2 linked regions of the Homo sapiens genome follow. The protein of the gene in region 1 purifies or fractionates together with the protein of each later gene. This does not show direct contact. Each region holds a gene or a part of one and is shown in the gene's direction. Other genes may lie near its edges.

Region 1 (3,500 bases):
AAACTGTCTATAATAGTACCTGCTCCTTCTTTGGCTCCTTTTTCCTACCCTGTTGTATTTTTCTCCATGGCACTCATCACTCCCTGACATAATATAGTTATTTGATTATCTATTTTCTGCCTGGTTCATTCCAACACACCAGCAGGGAGTTAGTTTTGTAAACTGCTGTATTCTCAGAGCATAGAATAATGCCTGGCTCACAGCACTACTCAACAAATATTTGAAGAATGAAAGCATGAAATAATTACACAAACATAAATATGTATTATAGCTGTGCTTGGTGCTATAAAAGAGAAGTATTGGCCTTTTCTTCTGGCTAATTGCTTTGGCCTGGTCAGAGAATTCAGGGAAGGCTTCATTGAAGACTTGAAATTTACAATGAATTGATCTTAGCCGGGCAAAGAGGAAGGGGAAGAATCCTCTGGGCCGAGGAACAGCCTGTGAGAGGGTCTTAATCTGGGGAGGATAGCACCTTGGAGGGACAGACAGATGGCCCGGGCAGGAACCTTGGGGAATGAGGGGCAAAGAGGAGGGTGATACAGCCACTGGAAAAGCTTTGGGCTTTATCTTGAGGGTAATGGGGAGAGGCGGAGGGTGACATGAGTTTATTGAGATGGTGTTTTTCAAAACAGCATCTGTTTGAAAACAGCAATCTGGTTTCTTTGCTTATTTAATAAACTTGTATACAGAGCTGACTTTGTGTCAAGCCCTGTTTGAAGTGATTCACTATTAACAACTCATTTTACCCTCATACGACACAGTGATGCTGGTACCATCATTAATCTCATTTTACAGACGAGAAAATTGGAGTGCAGAGAGATTAAGAAACTCGTCCAAGGCCGGGCTCAGTGGCTCACACCTGTAATCTCAGCACTTTGGGAGGCCAAAGTGGGTGGATCACTTGAGGTCAGGAGTTCGAGATCAGCCTGGCCAACATGGTGGGAGCCTGTCTCTACTAAAAATACAAAACTTAGCCTGGTGTGGTGGTGGGTACCTGTAATCCTAGCTACTCAGGAGGCTGAGGCAGAAGAATCGCTTGAACCTGGGAAGCAGAGGTTGCAGTGAGCCTACATTGCACCACTGCACTCCAGCCTGGGCAAGAGAGTAAGACTCCATATCAAAAAAAAAAAAAAGAAAAAAGAAAAAAGAAAAAAAAAAAGAAAGAAATATGTCCAACATTGCACAGCTAGTAAGTGGCGGAGACGTGATTCAGAACAGGTGACTGGCTCCACAGTCCATGCTTTTCCATTTCTGTTTGATACTGACTTTTGTGAGGTATAAATTTACAGGCAATACAATGCACACTAAGTGTACAGTTCAGTGAGATCTGATAAATGTATGTATCTGTGTGACAACCACCACAATCAAGATACAAAAAATGGGGGCTGGGTGCAATGGCATCCACCTGTAATCCCAGTACTTTGGGAAGCTCGAAGGGAGGATTGCTTGAAACCAGGAGTTTGAGACCAGCTTGGGCACTATAGTGAGACCCTATATCTACAAAAAAAATTTTTCCATCACTCCAAGAAGTTCCCTTGTGCCCTGTTGCAATAAACTTTTCCCATTGTACCCTAATAATGCCCCAGACCAATCCTAATTTGTTTCCTGTCACTGAAGATTATTCTAGGTAACCTAGATAACCTAGAATCTAGATATTCTAGATAACTTAGAGTTTCACAGAAATGGAATCATATGTTATGTGGTCTTTTTTGACTGGCTTCTTTTGCTCAGCATAAGCATAATGTTTCTGAGGTTCATCTGTGTTGTTGCCTATATCAGTAGTGTATTCCTTTTCCTATGCATATAATATGGGTTTTTTCCCTTTGGGTGCTTAAAAATTTATTATTTTATTTATTTAAAAAATTGACATATACGCCGGGCACGGTGGCTCACGCCAGCAATCCCAGCACTTTGGGAGGCTGAAGTGGGCTGATCACCAGAGGTCAGGAGTTCCAGACCAGCCTGACCAACATGGCGAAACCCCATCTCTACTAAAAATACAAAAATTAGCTGGGTGTGGTGGCGCATGCCTGTTATCCCAGCTACTCAGGAGGCTGAGGCAGGAGAATCGCTTGCACCTGGGAGGCGGAGGTTGCAGTGAGCCGAGATTGCGCCACTACACTCCAGCCTGGGTGACAGAGTGAGACTCCATCTCAAAAAAAAAAAAAAAAATTGACATATAATAATTGTACATATTTATGGGGTACATAAAGATGTTTTGATGTGTATAATGTATGGTGATCAGTCAGGGTAATTAGCATGTCTACCATCTCAAACATTTCTCATTTCTTTCTGTTCAGTATCTTCCTTCTAGCTATTTGAAACTATATATTATTGTTAACTATTGTCATCCTACAGTGGTACAGACTACTATAACTAAATTAAAAAACAATTGTGTGGCCAGGGATGGTGGCCCATGCCTGTATTCCTAGCACTTTGGGAGGCCGAGATGGGAGGATTGCTTGAGGCCAGGAGTTTGAGATCAGCCTGGGAAACATAGCAAGAACCCATTTCTACAAGAACTAAAAGAATTAGCTGGGCATGGTAGTGCATGCCTGTAGTCTCAGCTTCTCAGGAGGCTGAGACCAGAGGATCACTTGAACACAGGAGTTCAAGGCTGCAGTGAGCCATGATCATGCCACTGCACTGCAGGCTGGGTGACAGAGAAAGACTCTGTCTCTCAAGAAAATAAAAAAGAATTTGAAATAACTACAGATTCATAGGAAGTTGCAAAAGAAATATCCTGTGTACTCTTCACCCAGTTTCCCCCATTGGTTACATGTTATGTAACAATAGTACCATATAAAATTCAGGAAATCATGGTACAAATTCAGGGCTTATTCAGATTTCACTAGTTTTACATGCACTCCTTTGTGTGTATATTTTATATCGTTTTCTTCAATTTTGTGACATGTGTAGACTAATGTATCAGCTACCCTAATCAGGACCCAGAACTCTCCTGGTGATCACAAGCCTCTTTCATGCATCCCTTGACAGCCTTATCTCCCTCTCCCCATGGCAAATACCAATCTAGTCTGCATTTCTATAATTTTATTTCAAGAATGCTTTATAATTGGAATCATTAGTATATAACTTTCAGTGATTGGCTTTCTTCCCTCTGCATAATTCCCTTTAGGTGCATCAAAGTTGTTGCCTGTATCAATAGTTCATTCCTTTTCATTGCTGAGTAGTATTCAATGGCGTGGACATACCACACACAGTGAGTTTAACCATTCACCTACGGAATGACATTTAGATTGGTTCAATTTTTCAGCTACTATGAATAAAGATGCTATGAACATTTGTGTACAGGTTTTGTTTGTTTGTTTGTTTGTTTTTTGAGTTGGAGTCTCACACTGTCACCCAGGCTGGAATGCAGTGGCGTGATCTTGGCTCACTGCATCACTGCAAGCTCTGTCTCCTGGGTTCATGCCATTCTCCTGCCTCAGCCTCCCAAGTAGCTGGGACTACAGGCGCCCACCACCACGCCTAGCTAATTT
Region 2 (3,500 bases), on another chromosome or scaffold:
CTGGGACTAGAGGCATGAGCCACCATGCCTGGCTAATTTTTGTATTTTTGGTAGAGATGGGGTTTTGCCATGTTGCCCAGGCTGGTCTCAAACTCCTGAGTTCAAATGATCAGCCCATCTCAGCCTCCCAAAGTGCTGGGATTACAGGTGTGAGCCACTGCGTCTGGCCTCAACTTTCTTAAAAGTCTTAACGTTTTATCTTTTAAAAATTTATGCACATTTTGCTATTCTTAGTACTATACATATCCCTGTTTATTTTAATTTAAAAGGTTTCTATTAACTTACCTTTCAGTTAAATTGATGCTGTTGGAAGATAGGCATGGCTTTGTCTTTGTGTGCCTCCCTTTGCACCCCAGGTGCCCACAGTTTAAGCAGCAGAGCCACAGAGGTCATTCAGCCATAGACTTTTCCTATGTGAAGTCCTTTTACAGAAGTTCATCTCCTTTCTGCTTAAATATCTCCAGCACTACAGAGATTACTATCTCGTTAGCCAACTTTTTCTATTTTGGGTCAGATCTACTTGTCCAAAAGTCTTTACCTTGAAGTGAAATTTATTGTTATGTAAATACAAATTGTTATCAGTTCTGCCTTTTAAAATAACAAAAATACGTCCAGTCTTTCTTTTGCATTGTAGTTTTTAAGACATTTGGAGATTATGACCCCCTTAATTGTATGTTTCCCAGGCATAACACCTTTAAATCCTTGCACCATTCTTTATGGGTTCCTGTGTCTAGCTCCTTCATGACTGCATCACTTTGCTAAGGGTGAACTTTGCAGTGATATTATACTGGAACTGCACTGGGAGTACTATTCATGCTCCGAACACTATGTTTTTTTAAAAAAATAGGATATAAGATTGTTACTATTTTACCAAACATCCTTATTATGTTGTTGGCTCATGATCAGCCTGTAATATTAAAAATTTCCAGATTTTTTTCACATGGCTTATAGCTGAGCCATATCTCACCTATCCTAAAATAGTATTTTGAACCAGATGAAGATCAGTGAGCCACCAATGAAATTACATGAAGAATGGAAAAGTTTCCACTTAATTGTCAGAGTTTAGAACAATTCTTAAAAGGAAAAAATCTGTTTTCCTTTTTTTTTAGAGTCAAAGTCTTGCTCTGTCACCCAGGTTGAAGTGCAGTGGTGCGGTCACAGCTCACTACAACCTCAGATTCCTGGGCTCAAACAATCTCCAGCCTCAACCTCCTGAGCAGCTGGGACTACAGGCATGAGGGATCAGGCCCAACTTGTTTTTTAAAACACTGACACATGTGGGTTCTGAGAAAGGTTATCAAATAGGATTTTTGCTCTCATTAGCAAGATCAACATTTATACCTTTTAGGAAAGAAAATATACATAAGATATTTCCTCATTGTTAAAGATAAAGGCGTTACTACTGACTCACTGGGTTATAATAATGATTTAACCAGATTTTTAAAAAAATAGCTAACACTAAATGAGCCAGGCAGTATTCTGAGGGCTTTTATGTGCATTTGCGTGGAAACAGGTACTGTGATATTAAGACCACCAGCTGTTGGCTGGGCACGGTGGCTCACGCCTGTAATTCTAGCACTTTGGGAGGCCGAGGTGGGAAGATCACTTGAGGCTGGGAGTTTGAAACCAGCCTGGGAAACGTGGCAAAACCCTGTCTGTACTAAAAATACAAAAATTAACTGGCACAGTGGTGTATGCCTGTAATCCCAGCTACTCGGGAGGCTGAGGCAGGAGAATTGCATGAACCCGGGAAGCAGAGGCTGCAGTGAGCCAAGATCACATCACTGCACTCCAGCTTGGGGACAGAGTGAGACTCTGTCTCAAAAACAAAACAAAACAAAACAAACAACAACAACAACAACAACAACAAAAACACCAGCTGTTAAGCGGCAAAGCTAGAGCTTGAACCCAGGCTGATTCCAAGGCCTATGCCACTAGCTATTAAGTAATGAATAGCCTTTGTCACTAATACATGCAAAAGGGACCCAGCAGAGATTGGACCGTGACAGAGCCTCAGCAAATATTAAGGCCAATACAACGGAAAGACACTTCTGATTTCACTGCAATTGGCCTGCATTACCTGCAGCCTGGGATTATGAATTAGATTAATAAAGGACAGAAATGACAACCAAATGATCCAACCCAGAATGACGCTGAACAATATATAATTGCTTTTACAATTTGGAAAGATTATCTTTCCAAAATAATCCTTCAACTACTGTGTGTAACATTCCTAGTATTTATTGCCTATTTTCTCAGCCTCCATGTGTGTATGAACTCCCCCGCCCCACCCAATTTTAGAAACTCCTTTATTGTTTAGGAACATTTATTCTACTCAATGAAGTTTCAATTGCATTCATTCATGGTGGGCCAGCTCTGGGGGCTTGGATCAATCATGTGCTTTATGGGCATTCTGCTGGTGCCGTGGGGAGACGTGTCAGGATGTGGAGCCCAGAGTACTGGATGGGCCTCATGTCCTCTGTTCTCAGGGTTTATAAGCTTTGGTTTCCTCATCTATTCAGGGTGAAGGTATACTTTCCAGACATGTGACATTTTATTATTGGGTATCATCCTTGACCTCAAGGAGTTTATAATCTGCTTGTATTGAGGGATCCTCAAAGACACCCCCAAGTTTGGTAATTCACTAGAAGGTTTCATAGGACTCAGCATATAGTCATACTCACAGCTACAACTTATCGCATTGAAAGGATATAGAGCAAAATCAGCAAAGGGAAAAGGTGTGTCGGGTGAAGTCTGGAGGAAAGTAGGTACAAGCTTCCAAGAGGCCTCTCCCCATAGAGCTTGCACAGGATGTGCTTAATGTCTCCAGCGATGAACGTTTTCTGCCAGAGAAACTCATCTGAGCCTAGGAATGCAGGGTTTTTATGGGAGCCAGTTACATAGGCACATTGGCCTAGCCAAATTGCAGCCCTCCAGAAGAAAGGCAAGTTTTCAGCATAAACCACATTGTTTGTACAGACAGTTTAGGCATAGTACATGACCCTTATCAGATAGGGAATGGTGGGAACACACCGAAAATCCAAGGTTGCAAGCACAAGCCAGGGGCCAAACTTGTAACAGGCCTTTCTAAGGATAGCAGTCTCAGCCTGCTATGGTATCTCTTTTATGCACACTGCTAATAGAGACAAAACAAATCTTTTAAAAAGCTAAGAAATGGGCTGGGCGCGGTGGCTCACGCCTGTAATCCCAGCGCTTTGGGAGGCCGAGGCGGGCGGATCACGAGGTCAGGAGATTGAGACCATCCTGGCTAACACGGTGAAACCCCGTCTCTACTAAAAATACAAAAAATTAGCCGGGCGTGATGGCAGGTGCCTGTAGTCCCAGCTGCTCGGGAGGCTGAGGCAGGAGAACGGCATGAACCCGGGAGGCGGAGCTTGCAGTGAGCTGAGATTGCGCCACTGCACTCCAGCCTGGGCGACAGAGTGAGACTCCATCTCAAAAAAAAAAAAAAAAAAAAGCTAAGAAATGTGTGTACACAT

What was found. The genes of interacting proteins can lie anywhere in the genome.
Region 2: the proteins of OTOA (region 1) and HTATIP2 purify together in Homo sapiens (affinity purification with mass spectrometry; one large-scale study listed by BioGRID and IntAct). This does not show direct contact.

What each region holds. Positions count from the first base shown.
Region 1 is NC_000016.10:21,670,468-21,673,967, forward strand, and holds part of OTOA (otoancorin isoform 1 precursor), read left to right. Parts: intron 1-3,500. UniProt on the Homo sapiens protein: May act as an adhesion molecule.
Region 2 is NC_000011.10:20,377,214-20,380,713, forward strand, and holds part of HTATIP2 (protein HTATIP2), read left to right. Parts: intron 1-3,500. UniProt on the Homo sapiens protein: Represses translation by preventing reactivation of elongation factor eEF1A. May also inhibit nuclear import by competing with nuclear import substrates for binding to a subset of nuclear transport receptors.